Linked DNA regions of Homo sapiens. The protein of the gene in region 1 purifies or fractionates together with the protein of each later gene. This does not show direct contact. Each region holds a gene or a part of one and is shown in the gene's direction. Other genes may lie near its edges.

What was found.
Region 2: the proteins of APMAP (region 1) and TSPAN15 purify together in Homo sapiens (co-immunoprecipitation; one large-scale study listed by IntAct). This does not show direct contact.
Region 3: the proteins of APMAP (region 1) and ATF1 purify together in Homo sapiens (co-immunoprecipitation; one large-scale study listed by IntAct). This does not show direct contact.
Region 4: the proteins of APMAP (region 1) and NCAPD3 purify together in Homo sapiens (co-immunoprecipitation; one large-scale study listed by IntAct). This does not show direct contact.

The regions. Positions count from the first base shown.
Region 1 is NC_000020.11:24,975,033-24,979,956, reverse strand, and holds part of APMAP (adipocyte plasma membrane-associated protein), read left to right. Parts: intron 1-1,074; coding exon 1,075-1,190; intron 1,191-4,924. UniProt on the Homo sapiens protein: Exhibits strong arylesterase activity with beta-naphthyl acetate and phenyl acetate. May play a role in adipocyte differentiation.
Region 2 is NC_000010.11:69,457,965-69,461,464, forward strand, and holds part of TSPAN15 (tetraspanin-15), read left to right. Parts: intron 1-3,500. UniProt on the Homo sapiens protein: Part of TspanC8 subgroup, composed of 6 members that interact with the transmembrane metalloprotease ADAM10.
Region 3 is NC_000012.12:50,797,799-50,802,722, forward strand, and holds part of ATF1 (cyclic AMP-dependent transcription factor ATF-1), read left to right. Parts: intron 1-4,924.
Region 4 is NC_000011.10:134,217,350-134,222,273, reverse strand, and holds part of NCAPD3 (condensin-2 complex subunit D3), read left to right. Parts: intron 1-1,547; coding exon 1,548-1,702; intron 1,703-1,782; exon of another isoform or gene 1,783-1,883; intron 1,884-4,924.

The DNA.
Region 1 (4,924 bases):
GGTCAGAGTGGGCCTCCTGGGTGGGGGATGGTTGCTGTTCCAAGTGGAGCAAAGAGCTGGTGTGAAGGCCCTGGATAGGGAGATGCTGGTGTGGTTAGGACCCAGCAGGGAGGGGCTGGTGTGAGGGATGCAGAAGGCACAAGGGAGAGAGGGGGCAAGAAGGTGCTGTGGCCAGGTTGCGGTGCTCAGAGGCTGCTGCCAGGACTTGGCTCTAGGTGAGAGGGGGCCATTGTGGGGCTCTGAATAGAGGAAGGTCATGATCCGGCATGGCTGCTGGATTGAGAATAGACTACAGGGGTCAAGGGAGGGAGCAGGGGCGAGGCGAGAGGATGGTGGCCCCAGCCAGGGTTGTAAGGAGGACATGGGGAGACGGGTTCAATGGTGTCTTTTCAAAGTGGCCTCAGCAGAACTTGATGGTGGGTTGGGAGGCGTGACATACTGGCATGTGGATGGGAAGGACGAGTAGAGGCAGGAGTTTCTGGAGCCGTGTCTGTGAGTAGAAGGGCTCCAGGGCCCAGCTCAGGCTCCTGCTTCAGGAAGAGCCTGGTGGGCCTCGAGAATATCAGCGGGAGGTGGCGTGCCCTGTGCTGGACCATGGGACGGTGGCTCCAGTCCCAGGAAGGTCTCCCCTTGCTCCTTCCATCTTCTCTGTGAAATACGAGGCCGGGTCATCAGGTGTGAAACGTGGGCACTGCCCCCCACCACCCTAGGTAGACTCCAGTGGCTGTAGGGCTGTGAGTCACAGGGGTGAGGAGGTCCAGCTGCCCTGAGGCATTGGATGGGGGTGGGGAGCTGGGGAGGCTGGAGGATGGGTGGGCACAGGCCTCAGGATGCTCTCAGGTGACAAGATTGCTGAAGGTCTTGCACTAGCACATTTATATTTTTATATTTCTTTTGTACCATGATGTTTTCTGATATCCTAGAACAGTTTTTTCTTAACCCTTGTATTTCTGGCAACTGAGGATGTTGTTAGAAAGTGCCATCTTTATCAAAGAACTGAGAGCAGGTGCTCGGTACACATTTTCTTCACATGTGTATTTATAGACAGATCTCTGGAATTGCATTATTTTGCAGCTTCAAAGAACCCCCGCTCTTGCTTGGTGTTCTGCATCCAAATACGAAGCTGCGACAGGCAGAAAGGCTGTTTGAAAATCAACTTGTTGGACCGGAGTCCATAGCACATATTGGGGGTAAGTCTAAGCTTGGGTGGGGGGGGAGCCTTCCAGGCTGTCTGTTGTCTGAGGGGGCGGGTTCTGTGGGAGCAGCTGCAGTGGCACGCTGCCCCTGGACTGGGGCCCTGCACATCCTTCTTAGCTGCGGACGTGGGACTTGGCCCTCAGACATCACATGGGAGGCCCTAGTGGCTCTTTCTGCTGGTCTCATCTGCCCAGTTTGCATGCCATTTTAGCACTGGGTGATTTTGAATTCATCTCTATGGAACACTTTGTTGTGCTCAAAGTGTTGTGAAAGGAAAAAGGCCAAATACAGATACTGATTTTTAGTTCATTTATCAAAGTTAAATAGCTATTTGACAGCACAGTATTTCTTAGTTCCATTTGCTTTGTATAGATTTCACTGTGATGAAGACAAATGGTTCTCAATATTTCCACTGTTTTTGTCTGACTGTTTGAAATCTCACCTTGATGGGTACACTTAAGGGTAACCATCTGCATCACACTTGCCCATGCCTCAGAACTAGAATTGGGTCTGGTTCTAATACTTGCATCTCTAGCAACCTTGAACAAGGCATTTTCTGTTTGTTAAAATGAGAATTAAGTTTAGTATTGGGAAGGCACAGATAGTCACAGATAGTTTAAAACTTAATCTGGTATGGGCTTGCTGAGCAGCTTCTTTGGAAGTGCCGCTTGTTATTCTGAAGCACACTGTTCTCCAGGCAGTGGGTGGCTGTGGATATGTGCACACAGGGTGCTTCTGTTGTGCTCTCAAGGCCGGTCAGTGGCCTCTCTTCTAGTGACGTTTGACCAGCTTCTCTTGCCTGGGCCCTGTTATTTGACACAGGCCCCAAGGACTGGTCCATTTCTGCAGTTGGTTTGTTTTCTTGGCTGTCAAAGTCAAAATTGTTTCAAGAAGAGTAAATATCATGATAGAACTTTGTATTTCTCTTAAAAAGACATTGGCATTTATTTGTGTAAATTTTAAAAGCTTTAGCTTTTTTTGGTGAAAAATCAAATCTTGCTCTTTAAAACTGAAACTTAACAGCAGTTGAAGTGCAAACCAATGATCTTACCTCCCAAAGAGAGCACTTTCCTGTCTTTTTCTTTTTCACTGGGTTACTTCTCATTGTACTTTGTCACCAGGTCCCAGCTTTTTCTCTTTCTTTGATGAGCTGGTGACATTTCTTGGCCAGGCACAGTGGGGTCCTCTCTGGTGGGTGTGAGCCGCAGGGACCTGCCACTGCTGTCTCTGCCACCTCATTTGGAAGCTGTCCTGGGGGCTGGCTGGCAGGTTGCTGACAGTGGAAGGAGGTACTAGCTCTGGGGAGTGCTGGGAGAGAGTAACCACCAACTATAGCAGGCTTTATTTTATTTGTTTTTAAGTAGACTTTATTTTTAAGAGCAGTTTTAGGTTCACAGCAAAATTGAGCAGAAGGTACAGAGATTTTCTGAAAAAGAGTTTTTATTACGATTGGGTGTTGCATTTCGTCAAATACTTTTTCTGCACACATGCCATGCACAGCCTCCCACATGATCAACATCCCCCACCACAAGGGTAAGTTTGTTACAAGTGATGTACTCACATCAATACGTCAATAGTACTCGGAGTCTGTAGTTTACGGTAGGGTTCACTCTTGGTTTTATACATTCTATGGGTTTGGACAAATGCCATGTATCCACTGTTATGGTATCTTACAGGGTGTTTTCACTGCCCTGAAAATCCTCTTTGCTCTGCCTGTTCATTCCACCCTTTTCTTTTAACCCATGGCAACCACTGATCTTTTTGCCATCTCCATAGTTTTGCCTTTTCCAGAATGTTATGTAGCTGGACTCATACAGTATGTAGCCTTTTCAGATTGGCATCTTTCACTTAGTAGTATGCATTTATTTAAAATTCCTCCATGTCTTTCCATGGGTTGATAGCTCATTTCTTTTTAGCACTGAGTAATATTCCATTGTATGGATGTGCCACAGTTTAGTTACCTACTGAAGTACATCTTGGTTGCTGCTAAGTTTTGGCAGTTATGAATAAGGCTGGTATAAACATCTGTGGGCAGGTTTTTGTGTGGACCTAAGTTTTCAGCTCATTTGGGTAAATACCGAAAAGCATAATTGCTGGATTGTATGGTAAGAGTTAAGTTTTGTAAGAAACCACCAAGCGTTTCCAAAGTGGCTGTACCATTTGCCTTCCCATTAACAATTAGTGAGAGTTCCTGATGCTCCATGTCCTCGCCAGCATTTGGTGGTGTCAGTGTTTTGGATTTTGGCCCTTTTAATAGGTGTATAGTGGTGTCTCGTTGTTTTAATTTGCATTTCTCTGATGATATTTGATGTGGAATATCTTCATATGCCTACCTGCCATCTGTATATCTTCTTGGTGATGTGTCTGTTCAGGCCTTTTGCCCATTTTTGTAATTGGGTTGTTCATTTTCTTATTGTTGAGTTTTAAGAGTTGTTTGTGTATTTTGGATAATAGTTCTTTATCAGACATGTTGTTTGCCAATATTTTCTCCAGTCTGTGGCTTCTCATTCTTTTGACAGTATCTTCTGTAGAGCAAGAGTTTTTAATTTTAATGAAGTTTCACTTATTAATTATTTCTTCATGTATCTCACCTTGGTTTTATATCTAAAAATTCATCATCATACCCTAGGTGTTATATCTAAAAATTCATCATCATACCTAGATTTTCTCCTATGTTCTAGGAATTTGTTTTGTATTTTATATTTAGGTCTATGATCCATTTTGAATTCCATTTTTGTGAAGGGTATAAGGTTTGTGTCTAGATTTATTTGTTTGCATGTGGATGCAAACAAATTTGTTCCAGCACCATTTGTGGAAAACACTGTCTTTTCTCCATTATGCATTGCCTTTACTCCTTTGTCAAAAGATCAGTTGATTGTATTTATGTGGGTCTGTCTCTGGGCTAAAAATTTTATCTGTTCTATTGATTTATTTTTCTATTCTTTTGCTAATACCACATTGTCTTGATTACTGTAGCTTTATAGAGAATCTTGAAGTTGAGTAGTTTCAGTCCTCTGACTTTATTCTTTTCCTTCAATATTGTATTGGATATTTTGAGTCTTCGCCCTCTCCATATGAACTTTAGGATTCATTTGTCTGTATCTACAAAATAACTTGCTGGGATTTTGATTGGGATTGCATTGAATCTATAGATTAAGGTTGGGAAAAACTGACATCTTGACAATATTGAGTATTCCTGTCCATGAACATGGAATATCTCTCCATTTATTTAGTTCTTTGATTTCTTTCATCAGAATATTCTAGTTTTCCTCATATAGACCTCGTGTATATTATATTATATTTATACCTAAGTATGCCAATCTTTTGGATGCTAATGTACATAGTATTGTGTTTTCAATTCCAAATTCCATTTGTTCATTGTTAGTATAAAGGAAGGTGAGTCAATATCTTGCAATATCCTGCAACCATGCTATAATTGCTTGGTTCCAGGAGGGTTTTTTGTTGTTGTTGATTCTTTCAGATTTTCTATCTAGACAATTATGTCACTTGCAAACAAAGAAAGTTTTATTTCTTTCTTCTCAATCTGTATACCTTTTGTTTCCTTTTCATGTCTTACTGCATTAGCTAGGTCTTCAAGTATGATACTGAAAAGGAGTGGTGATAGGGGCATCTTTGCCTTGTTCTTGATCTTAGCAGGAAAGCTTCTAGTTTGTCATCCATAAGTATGATGTTATATGTAGATTTTTTTATAGATATTCTTGATCAA
Region 2 (3,500 bases), on another chromosome or scaffold:
CCTCTAGTGCAGCCTTTTAAATTTACCGATAAGAAATCAGAGGCCTGAAGAGAAGTGAGTTGCCTGAAAGCCCACAGCAAGTCAGTGACAGGCCAAGACCAGATCCAGGCTGCCTGACTCCAGTTTCTTCCTCGGGCCCCCATGACCTTTCCAGGCGCCATGTATGTTTCTCCCTGGTCTCAGGGTGAGGGTAGAAGATAACCTTTCTGAAAGAGGCCACGTCCCTGGCCTCCCAGTGAAGCACTAGGTGAAGCCAGGCCAAAAAGAAAGCACTTCTCTGGAGACAGTTTCCAGGAGATTTTTACTTTCGAGAAGAGCTTTATTATTTTTGTGAAAATCATACATGCGCATAGCTTAAAAGATTCAAGCCATTTGGGAAAGTACAACGAAAACAGCAAAAGTCCCCTTTGATTCTACCACTGGGATTCAGCCACTGTTATATGTTGGTAAACATCCATCTGGACATCTTGTACATATATGTAGACATTTTATTTCTTTAATTATCTTTCTTATTGTGTTTGATTTGTCGAGCAAAGTTCATTTTCTGGCTCTAGGTAAGCATTCCAAATAGTGAAACTCAAATAGTGAAGCTGAAAGTGGGGCAGCCTTCATATTGGAGAAGTGGCCAGCCGTGCCTAACGGGCTGTCAGAGATGATCTCATAGCATCAGACTGGGCTCAGGCCTCGGGCACAGAGAGGTCCTCCCCTCCCCCAGTCTGGCCACAGAGCCTTTAAAATCCAGAGAATCAGGGCTGCAGCCCTGCCAGGGGTTTGGAGAACCTTCCAACACCTTCATTTTATAGATGAGCAAACTAAGGCCCTGAGAAGTGTCCTTCGCTCTTAACCTAGACTTTGTACATGGTCTCGTTCCCCGCTTTAATAGAGGAATTGCTTTATGTCGTAGGACTGGACCTTGCTGCCTTTGGGTTGGTTCCTGGAGAAGCAGGAATAACCACCTGCCCTCCTGCCCGGAGGCCTTTCTTCCCAGGTGACTCACAGTGCCACCCTGGGGTGGGGCTCACGGTCAACCTGATAAGGGACTGATAATGAAATTTCTGTACCAACTGGCTCCACACAGGGGAAAGATGTTTTCTGGGTAAGTCTGGTCAGAAGAGGTTGATGGGGGGAAAACAAAACAGACAAAAAAAAAAAAAAAAAAAACAACAACAAAACAACCTTTCCCAGAGAGAACTTTTAGATGTGAATGGGTTTGAATTGACTTCTTGTTGGAAGGCAGGAGCATTCAGTCTTAACCAGCCGTGCTCTCTGGTTGGTTGGTTTGTTCATTAAGTCAACAAATAGTTATTTGATGCCTACTGAATGCCAGGCACTGTGATACCGTGATAGGTGTGGGAAGCAACTATGAACAAGACAGGTTTAGTCCAGGCCTTGGAAGACAGAGCAGTAAATAAATATCACTTGTGATAGGTGCTAAGGAGAAAATTAGGGAGCAAGTGGGGAGGGATGGGCGTTTCCACTTTCGATGATGTGGTCAGGGAAAGCCTTTATGAGGAGCTGACATTTCAGCTGAAGCTCAAATAGAGAAGGAGCCAGCCATAAAGACTTGTCCAGAGCATCCCAGGCAGAGAGAGCCATGAGTTCAAAGTCCCTGAGGCAGGTCGCAAGCATGGCTACAGCAGATGAGGAAGCCCGGGAAGGGCTGCGCTGTGGGTGGAGAGGGTGGCAGGGGCCTGGCTGTGTGAAGAGTTTGGGGTTCGAGTGACTGAGAAGCAGGGTTTCATTGTCAGGCCCTGTGGTCTTGCCATCCAGAGACCTAGATCAGGTGTTGGCTATTCTGTGTGACACTGGGTAAAGGACCAGCTCTCTGAGCCTCCGAGATGCCTCCTCTGTGGGTACCCCAGAGGGCAGTGGGGAGGATCCTGTGAGATGAGAGGTGCCAAAGCACGGGGCCTACTCTAGGGTCCCCCACCCACGGAGGGAGGGAGACTCTAGGCACCCCCCCCCCACGAATGGAGGGAGACTCTAGGGCTCCCTGCCCACGGAGGGAGGGAGAGTCACCTGGGAGCCTTGCATTGCTCAGGGGTAGTTGGGGAGATGAGATGAGATGAGATGAGATGAGATGAGATGAGATGAGATGAGATGAGAACCTCTGGAATCCGTCTTGTCAGAGGAGGCTCCTTTGCCCCTGGGGGTACTCAGCCTGCCTAGAACAGATGGCTATGGAACCAACTCCTCCAGCCAGCTGGTCTGACCCCTAGGGTGTGCATGTGGTCTTTTCCAGAGGCTGGGCCCCTCCCACCCCTTAGTTTCTGGGCTACCATGGCACACTGTCAGAAGCACTAGGCCACAACAGGCACGCGGGGCCAGGCAGGCCGTCTGAGAAGTGTCCTGCTAGGCTCTGAGGGGTCCCAGCCCTCGGTCAGCATGAGTTGTTCAGCTCCAAGCTAGGCCCCTGGGCTGGTGGAGGTGAGGAAGAGACACCGTAGAGACACTGTAGACTTACGATGTCACCTTCCCCAGCTAGAGGGTTGGCCTGTGAAGGAGCTGGCAGCCATCTCTGCCTCTGGCGATGTGCCATGTTAGCCCAGGAACTAAGGGGTGGGAAGGGCCCAGTCCCTGGAAAAGACCACATGCACGCCCAAGGGGTCAGACCAGCTGGCTGGAGGAGCTGGTTCCATCAAGGGCCAGTCTGAGCTAGGCTGCCTGACTGTGGTGGCCTGACCACCACATTTTGCTTCATCTCTTTGGATTCTCAGAGTGACCCTTGAGCTGGGCTGGACAGGGGGTCTTGTCCTGTTTTACAGAGGAGTCTTTGGGAGGACTCTGAGGGCTTCACTGGGCAGGGAGGCCTCGCAGAGAGGAGTGGAGATGAGTCTTAGGAGAGGGAGGGCGGGCTACAGAATGTTTTTTGGGCCTGAGTGTTGAGGTCAGAAATGTCCTCTGGGAAGACCAGGTCTGGAGGCCAAGCAGAGCTGAGGAGGATGAGCACTTCTTGGTTGGCGGGTGAGGAGAAGGTCCATGTGACAAGTCATGGACAACTCTCTGTGCCTTGGTTTTCTTGTCTGCTGGGAGGGGATAACTGTTGTGCTGCCCACAGGGGTGAGGCTTAGATGAGGCAGTGCCCACAGAGCGCTGAGTGGGCATCTGGCTGGGTAACCGTTCATGCAGATGCTGGGAGGAGACGCCGTCTGCCACGTGTCTCACCACAGTTTGCTTCATCTCTTTGCATTCTCAGAATGACCCCATGTGCCTTGTCCCATTTTATAGAGGAGGAGACTAAGGCCCTGAGCGGGGAAGTAACTTGTGTGAGAACCATCATTTGCATGTGTTCCTGGGACAAGAACTGTTTCACTGTGGGAAAGGTTACTGTTGGGTTTTAATTTTTTCCAAAAGGGACTTTCTCGCCAAGACATTTGCATCTGGGCCTGCAGGGAAGCAAGTATTTCACTGGAGGGTGGAAGGAAAACAGCCTTGGCCCAGATGGGCTTGTTTTTCCCTCTTCAGAGCCCTCCCACTTCCTGCCTGGGAGAGCAGGAACC
Region 3 (4,924 bases), on another chromosome or scaffold:
ACTTTTGACCTGGAATTCTGTGCCTACTGAACAGTCTTTCAAAAATGACGGTGAAATAATAATCATTTTCAAACTGATTTAAGAAACTACTTAAGGAGGCTGGGTACAGTGGCTCACGCCTGTAATCCCAGCACTTTGGGAGGCCGAGGCGGGTGGATCACTTGAGGTCAGGAGTTCGAAACGAGCCTGGCCAACATGGAGAAACCCTATCTCTACTAAAAATAAAAAAATTAGGTAGGCATGGTGGCACATGCGTGTAGTCCCAGCTTGAACCCAGGGGGCGGAGGCTGCAGTGAGCTGAGATCGTGCCACTGCACTCCAGCCTGGGTGACAGAGTGAGACTCCATCTCTAAAAAAAAAGAAAAAAGAAACTACTTAAGTGTATACTTCAGGAAGAAGAAAATGAAAGGAATATAAATGTGAGAAAGTATGGTGAACAAAGACAATTCATTTCAGTTAGCATTGGCTTTTTAGAACAATAGTAATAATGATTAATTTGGGTAGTTTCATGGTTGTTGTTTTTTTTTTGAGATGGAGTCTCGCTCTGTCATCCAGGCTGGAGTGCAGTGGAGTAATCTCGGCTCACTGCAAGCTCCGCCTCCTGGGTTCATGCCATTCTCCTGCCTCAGTCTTCCGAGTAGCTGGGACTACAGGCGCCCGCCACCACACCTGGCTAATTTTTTGTATTTTTTAGTAGAGACGGGGTTTCACTGTGTTAGCCATGATGGTCTCAATCTCCTGACCTCGTGATCTGCCCACCTTGGCCTCCCAAAGTGCTGGGATTACAGGCGTGAGTCACCATGCCCAGCCTGAACCTGAGATTTCTTTATTAAGTAGGGGTCTCTCAGGAAGGCTATAACATCTGAAAAGAAACTTCTCAAAGTTAAGCTTTCTGGATTGCCACAGATTAGTATAAATCAAATACGAATTCACTCAAAAATCATCAAACGTGCAAGGACATAAACCACGTAAGTGAGAATTGGCAGAAACAATACAGTCAACTCAATAAATGCTGGGAAAAAAAGTATTTGATTAAATCCAGCACCTCATACATTTCTACCAAAAATGAATAAAAATGGGCTTCCCTAGCATATGTAGACTTTTAGAACTTAACTATGTATAGGACAGATCACCATTGCCCAAATTCTAGACTGGCCACTACCTGGTGCACATGTGTAATAGATATGAATAGCATTGCAAAGACTTTGGAAACTGAACTGACATTGGAACCACAACCCACAGAAGGCTGATCAGAACTTGTGGCCTGGACACAACCAGATTGATACCTTCTAAAACAAGAATATAGTCTAGGTCTGTGGCTCATGCCTGTAATCCCAGCACTTTGGGAGGCTGAGGTGGGAGGACTACTTGAGTCCAGGAATTTAAGACCAATCTGTGTAACATAAGGAGATCCTGTCTCTACAAAAAATACAAAAATTAGCTAGGTATGGTGGTGTGTACCTGTAGTCCCAGTTACTCAGGAGGCTGAGGGCAGAGGATCACTTGAGCCCAGGAGGTTGATGCTTCAGTGAGCCATGATTGTGCCATGCACTCCAACCTGAGTGACAGAACGAGTCCCTGTCCCAAATACACACATGCACATGCAACAAGAATATAAAACATTTTTTATTAAACAAGACCCAGAGTCTGATAGCATAATATTCAAAGAGTCCAAAATTACTTGGTATCAAAGAACAAGGAAAAATCTCAACTTGCACGGGAAAAGACTGTTGACAGAAGCCAACTCCTAGATGATACAAATGTTGGAATTATATGACAAGGACTTTAAAGAAGCTATTATTAAACTGTTCCAACAAGTAAGTGAATTTTCTTGAAATGAAAGGTATAAACTCTCGGCCAAAAATAGAGCATATAAAGAGAATAAAATAGAGATTTCAGAGCTAAGAAACACAGTAACAGAGATAAAACCTCATTGGATGGGTTCAATAGTAGAATGGAAATGAGAGAAAAAACGATCAACTTTGAAGATTATTCAATGGATATTATCCAATCTGAACATAGAAAAGAGATTGGAAAATTATCTAATTCTCAGCGACCTGTGCGACAATAATTAAAGATCTAAGATTTATGTCATTAGAGTCTCAGAAAGAGAGGAAAAAAGTATAGCGCAGAAAAAATACTTGAAAAAATAATGGCTGAAAAATTACCAAATTTGGTGAAAGACGTAAACCTACAGGTTCAAAAACCTCAGCAAACTCTAAACAGGATAAACACAAATAAATCATTGCCCAGACTTACCATAATCAAACTGCTGAAAGCTAAAGTTAAAGAAATCTTGTGAGTAGCCAGAGAATAATGGCACATTACTTACAAGAGAACATTGTGAATGACTACAGAGTGCTCATCAGAAACTATGGAGGTGAGAAGATAATGGAATAGCATTTTTAAAGTGCTAAAAGAAAAAAGAATTATCTCCTGGGTCTTGGCACCCAAAATTCTATGTCTACTGAAAACATCCTTCAGACTTGGAGGTCAAATAAATATTCTCATCAAGGGAAACTAAGGGAAATAATTGCCAGCAGACCTGCTGTAAAACAACTGCTAAGAAAATTCTTAAGACGAAAGAAAGTTAAGGAATGAAGAAACAGCAACAGAAATATCTGGGCAAATATAATGGACAGTTCCTCTCCTATTGAATTCTTTAAAATAGGGGTCCCCAAACCCCAGGCCGTGGATTGGTACCTGTCTGTGGCCTATTAGGAACCAGGCTGCACAGCAGGAGGTGAGCAGCGGGTGAGCGAGCCTTAGCACCCAAGCTCTGCCTCCTGTCAAATCAGTGGCATATTAGATTCTCATAGGAATGTGAACCGTGTTGTGACCATGCGAGGGATCTAGGTTGCATGCTCTTCATGAGAATCTAATATCTGATGATCTGAGATGGAACAGTTTCATCCTGAAACCATCCCCTGACTTCCCTATCCATGGAAAAATTGTCTTCCACGAAACTGGTCCCTGGTGCCAAAAGGGTTGGGAACTGCTGCTTTAAAATATATTTGATGGCTGGGCGCGGTGGCTCATGCCTGTAATCCCAGCACTTTGGGAGGCTGAGGCAGGTAGATCACCTGAGGTCAGGAGTTTGAGACCAGCCTGACCAACATAGCAAAACCCCGTCTCTATTACAAAGATAAAAACTTAGCTGGGCATGGTGGCAGGCGCCTGTAATCCCAGCTACTCGGGAGGCTGAGGCAGGAGAATCACTTGAACCTGGGAGGTTGCAGTGAGCCGAGATCATGCCACTGCACTCCAGCCTGGGCGACAGAGCGAGACTCTGTTTCAATCAATCCATCAATCAATTTGATGGCTGAAAACAAATTATGAAATTCTGATGGGGTTTTTAATGTGTGCAGAGGTAATATATAAGACATCTACAACATAAAGAGGGAAATATAAACAGTTCTAATATGGTGGTAAGGTTTCTACATTCCACCTGAAGTGGTAAAATAGTGATTCTATGTAGACTATAAAAAGCTAGGTATCTATATACCCCTAGAGCAACTACTAAAAAAAAACTACACAAAAAGATTTAGTCAAATATACAGTTGCTTAAAAATTAAATTTTGAAAAGTCTTCAAATAATCCAAAATAATGCAGGTGCAGGAACACAGAAGAATTTTAAAAACAGAATAAACAGAAAGCAAATAATAAAGTGGAAGATCAGCCAATACTGAAGATGGCCTACACTCACCAATTAAAAGGCAATTGTAAAACTAGACCAATATCCTTCATGAATATAGACACAAAAAATCCTCGACAACATATTAGCAAACCAAATCCAACAACATGTAAAAGGTAGTATATGCCATGACCAAACAGGATTTATCCCTGAAATGCAAAATTGGTTTAATAATTGAAAATCAATTAATGTAATACATCATATTAATAGAATCAAAACAAAAAACATATGATCATCGCAAGACACAGAAAAAGCATTTGACAAAAATCCAGTTACCATTTCATGATAAAACTGCTCAACAAATACATAGAAGGCTGCTTCCTCAACCTAATAAAAAGGGTCTACGAAAAACCCACAACTAACATCCTAATAAGAAAATAATGTGGATATCCCCTCTCACCACTTCTAAACATTGCACTCAGGGAATTAGTCAATAAATTAAATAAAAGGCATCCTGATTGGAAAGGACTAAGTAAAACACTTTGTACATGACAGTATCTTATATATACAAAATCCTAAAGAATTATTAAAATAGAACTAATCAACAAGTTCCAGCAAGGTTGTAGGATATAAGATCAATATAACAAAAATCAACTGTATTTCCATATACTAGCAATGACTAATCCAAAAATGAAACTTAAAAACAATTCTATTTACAATAACAAAGTATAAAAGGTTTAAAATTAAATTTATAAATTTAAATTATACTTAGATATGAATTTAACAAAAGAAACAGAACACATATACTGGAGGCCAGGCACAGTGGCTCATGCCTGTAATCCCAACACTTTGGGAGGCCGAGGCAGGCGATCACCTGAGGTCAGGAGTTTGAGACCTGCCCGGCCAACATGGTGAAACCCCATCTCTTCTAAAAATACAAAAATTAGCCAGGCCTGGTGGCACGCGCCTGTAGTTCCAGCTCCTCAGGATGCTGAGGCGGGATAATCGCTTGAACCTGGGAGGCAGAGGTTGCAGTGAGCTGAGATTGTGCCATTGCACTCCAGCCTGGGTGACAAGAGCAAAACTCCATCTCAAAAAGAATACATATACTGGAAACTATAAAACCTTGTTGAAAGAAATTTTAAAAGATCTAAGTAAGGCTGGGAGCGGTGGCTCACATCTGTAATTCCAGCACTTTGGGAGGTCAAGGTGGGGCAGATCACGAGGTCAGGAGTTCGGGACCAGCCTGGCCAATATGGTGAAACCCTGTCTCTACTAAAAATACAAAAA
Region 4 (4,924 bases), on another chromosome or scaffold:
TTTCTTCCTCTTCTTCCATCCTAAGTGAAGTAGCAGAGCAGAAGTTACCTGCATTCGACAGCTGAGAAAATAGGTAGTGAGAGATTTGAATAGTGTAAAGATACTGAGGGAAAAAGACTAACTCAGTGTCTCCTATACTCTCACTCAACAATCAACACTGAAGACTTCTGTGACCAAATGGTAGATAACAGGGCCAGTTACTGCCATCCAAATTAGATTTGATGGTATTTACAGTAGGGAACTGTCATAAGCAAAACCAAAAGAAGGAGTGAGATAACTTTTGCTGTGGTCTATAATGACCTTTAAAACATTACTGGAAATTTGGAAAGAAACAATTGTATTTTTCAGATCTTCTTTCAGGCAGCATATTCCATGTCTTTGGAAGGAATGCTGTGCATAGCCACTTAGGGTACAGAGACCCCCTCCTTCAGGGTCAAGTTCAAGTGACAAAAGATGATGACCAGATTGTATTCTAAGGATGGAACTAGTTGAGTGTAAGGCCTTTCATTTTCATTTGCCGAGTGCAGTGTAATGCTCCCATCTCTGTTTTTTCCTTATTTATACCTTGCCCAACTTCTCTAAATCAGTGGTGAACAAATACTTTTAATATTAATTTGAAGGAACACCTGATTAATAATTTGAGATGTCCACATTTCCATCTAGTCCTAATTTTAGTTTGGGAAAGTGACAATGACAACACTGAAGAAATATAGTGTATTAGAAAAGAATGGGAAGGGGGGATGGAGGGATAGGGGAGGGATACCATTAGGAGAAATACCTAATGTAGATGACGGGTTGATGGGTACAGCAAACCACCATGGTACGTGTATACCTATGTAACAAACCTGCATGTTGTGCACATGTACCCAAAAACTTTAAGTTAAAAAAAAAAGTTTATCCAAAAAAAAAAGAAAAAGAAAAGAATGGGAAGATTTAGAGTTAAGAGAGATTGGTGGAATCCAGCCAGCGTGCTGTCTTAATACCCCTCCTCTCAATGTACATTCTTTCAATCAGTGTGTTTTAAAGTCACCAAGTATTCCTGGGAGTCTGAATCTGGGTTGCCTCTTCTATTTTAAACTTCCTGGAGAAATTATATATGTTTTTTAAATGCTACATGATTGTCCAAGGGCCCAATAAAGTGCTCTATATTTTATTTCCACTTATTAACTTGGTTATGATATTTTCACAAAGGAACCTCGTGGGCAATCTGATTAACCTCTGTTTCTTCTCTAGATTGAACATGTGGGAAAGCCTGATCACTGAATGTTTTGAAGTGTCCTTTCCCAAAACTCTTGTATCTGAAAAGTATTTCCTCCTTTATATTTTTAGAAGATGATTAGCTTAATAGTCAGTGTCAGTTGTGATTTAAGATTCTCTTAACCTTTTCTGGTTTTCTTTTATTATGCTACACCTATGTTATTAAAACAAGTTAAATGTGAATCGTGACTAGTAAACTTTTCTCCTCTTGAACACACCTGGAATCTAAAGGTGACTAGTTTTTTTACTTGTTACAGAGTACTTACACATTTCATTGCATTTTCCCCTAGAATGGGTTGACACAGTGTGGGAACTGGATTTCACAGAGACTGAGCCTTTGGATCCCAGCATAGAAGCAGAGATCATAGAGACTGGATTGGCTGCATTCACAAAACTCTATGAAAGCCTTTTACCCTTTGCTACTGGAGAACATGGATCTATGGAGGTAAAAATATAAAAACAAACTAGCCAAAGTTTGGTGTTAGAAGTAGAAGATGAAAGTCATTATTATAATCTGAAGCTTAGCTTTCTTGGTGTACAGTTCACAGGGAGTACAATATGAGTAACATAAAGAATGTGGTTAATTTATTGGAATATCCTAAGAGCTTTCCTCCAAAAGCTTCAAGGTACTTGTCTGATTTTTTTTTTTTAAGACACGACTGTTTTTTACAATAGCAAATTAAAGGAAAAGTATAAGGCCGGGTGTGGTGTCTTACGTCTGTAATCCCAGCACTTTGAGAGGCTGAGGCTGGCCAGTTGCTTGAGCTCAGGAGTTTGAGACTAGCCTGGGCAACATGGCAAAACCCCATCTCAGAAGGAAAAAAAAAAAGGAAAAATATAAAGGCAAAAACAAGAAAACTAGACCAAGGAAAATGCAAATAACAATTCAGACATGCCTTAACCTTAACTTTAAGAAAATCTGCGACCAGGCATGGTGGCTCATGCCTGTAATCCCAGTACTTTGGGAGGCCGAGGTGGGTGGATCACGAAGTCAGGAGTTCAAGACCAGCCTGACCAAGATGGTGAAACCCCATCTCTACTAAAAATACAAAAATTAGCCGGTTGTGGTGGCGGGCTTCTGTAATCCCAGCTACTCGAGAGGCTGGGGCAGATAATTGCTTGAACCCAGGAGGCGGAGGTTACAGTGAGCCGAGATCACGCCACTGCACTCCAGCCTGGGCGACAGAGCAAGACTCTGTCTCACAAAAAAAGAAAATCTGATATTATTAAACTGAGGAATGACTAGTTGAATTAACAGGTTTGTCCAAACAGTTCCTGTAAATATTGAGTTCTATCCAATGCATAGAAATATAAATTATTATTAATATTTAGGTTGTTAGTTTTCAAAAAAAACCAAAGGGTTGGGAAACAGAACAAAAGCTAATTGGATATTAACATCTCTGAAACATTTAAATGAACAAAAAAAAATTCACTTCCAAGTTTCACATCACAAAATTAAATCATCTAATTAAACATTCCTTCAGCATAACACTAAGCACTGCCTTAAGTACCTGAGTTGACAGAGTGGGGATTACGATACAATCTCCCTAGGTTGAGGTCCTCCCCAGGGACCTCAGGGAGGAAGAGTGGACATTTGAACACTAGCCAAAGTAGGTCTAGCAGCCACATGCAGTTGCAGGGGGTGGAGAGTTCAGTGCCACTGTGCATTTGGGCGCCTGGAAATATTCTACGAACCACACTGTGAAAAATGCTCCAAGAGAGGTGCGGATTTGTTGCATAGGGTGTGAAAAAGGGAGCATGGTAGGGTTGGGAAAGTTCCAGAAAGAAAGTGGCCAGCAGCGAATCTTCACAGATGACTAGCAGAAGCTTGGGTTGTAAGGCAGTCCTAGTGAAGGAGCCACCCAATGGGAACACGCAGGAAGTGTCAAGAGGCATACAGAAAAAGTGTGGTGGAACGGGATGGTAAGGTAGAGTAAGGGTAGGTCACGGGTAGCTTTACGTGAGGTTCAGCAGTGGAGTTTGAACATGTTTGGTAGAGTGTGTATGAGGTTTTGTTCTAAGCGTCCTGCATGTATTAACTCATTTAATCCTCAAGCAGCCTGTGTGAAAGAGGTTACAGTGGGCAATAGATAGGTAACATGAATAGATCTGTTTTAAGCAGACGTTCTTGACAGTAGGTGGACTGAAGTGGGAAAAATTGTGTGCAGGGAGAGCCCTTGGGAGACTGTATTGGTGATCCAGGTGTTATGAGTAATAATGGCATGATCCGGAGTTACAATTTTGGGAACTGGAAAGGAAGACTAAAAACTAGGGACATTTTTGGAATTAGAATTAATAGGGCCTTGTGAACTAGGAAGCCCTTTTGAGATATCTTAAAAACATGGTGTGAAGTGCTAAACTGACTGGGCATAGGGAATTAGAAAAAGAAAGAAGTCAGTGATCCCCAGGGTTTCAAAACTAGGAAGATGATGATATTGTTAACCAAGGTGGGGAATAAGGGAAAAAGAGCAAGGTCAAATGGAGAAACAGTTCTGTTTAGACTTCTGAACTTGAGATTCTGTCAGGAGATCCTTGGGAAGTTTAACAGGTAGTAGAAATGTGAGACCAGGAGAGAGAAGAGAGTTCTTTAAATTGAGGTATGGGTTGAAGCACAGTGATGCATGAGATCACCGAGGGTGAGAAGCAGCCAGGACAGAAATGGAGAGCTGATTGGACGGGGTCTGCAGAGGAGCAGTCACATGTAGGGAGTGCAGGGTCACTGACGCCCAGACTAGACAGCAGCCATGGGATCACATGGGGCCAAGGTGACCCCATATGCAGAGCCCTGGTGAGCAGATGGTTTAGGGTGATCGATCACCCTCGTGTGTGAAGTGGAGGTGCAGGTGGCATTAGGAATGAGGATGTGACACTGTAAAGTTAGGAGATGATTTCTTCCCCCCCCCCCCTTTTTTTTTTTTGAGACCAGGGTCTTGCTCTGTCACCCAGGCTGGAATGCAGTGGCACAGTCAAAGCTTACTGCAGCCTCAACTTATTGGGCTCACATGAGCCTCCCACCTCACCCTCCTGAGTAGCTGGGACTACAGGTGTGTGCCACCACGCCCAGCTAATTTTTTATTTTTTGTGGAGACAAGGTCTTGCTTTGTTGCCCTGGCTGTTCTCAAACTCCTGGGCTCAAGCAGTCCTCCTGCCCTGGCCTCTCAAAGTGCTGGGATTACAGGCATGAGCCATTGTGCCCAGTGGAGATGATTTCTCCCGTAAGTTTTTTAGTTAAGGAAAGGAGAGTGCTCTGCTCACTTGAATTTTGTGGGCCTTTTTTTGTTACGATACTCAAGGATAAACCATATTTAGTTCCTGCTATGTTTAGGTTATTAAAATAACCCATTTCTTCTTCATGTGTTTAGTAGGAGAAGACATGGAATGAAGATAGAATTAATACAATTGTGGTTTCTTTTCTAGGGTTTATCTCCTTTACCTGGGCCATTTCCGAGATCTCTTTCATTTCCTGCTCCCATTGCCTGCAATCTGCAGAACATTTAAATAAAGGGCTCTGATTTCCTCAGTTAGTAATTATTGGTAAAGGAATTTGAGTTCCTTTTAATATAAATAGAGGGATAACTTTCCTGAATAATCACTAATATATGGTGTCCCAAAAGTCTTAGTGTAGTTTTAAGCTATAATTTCTGAAGTATATATGCTACAAACTTAA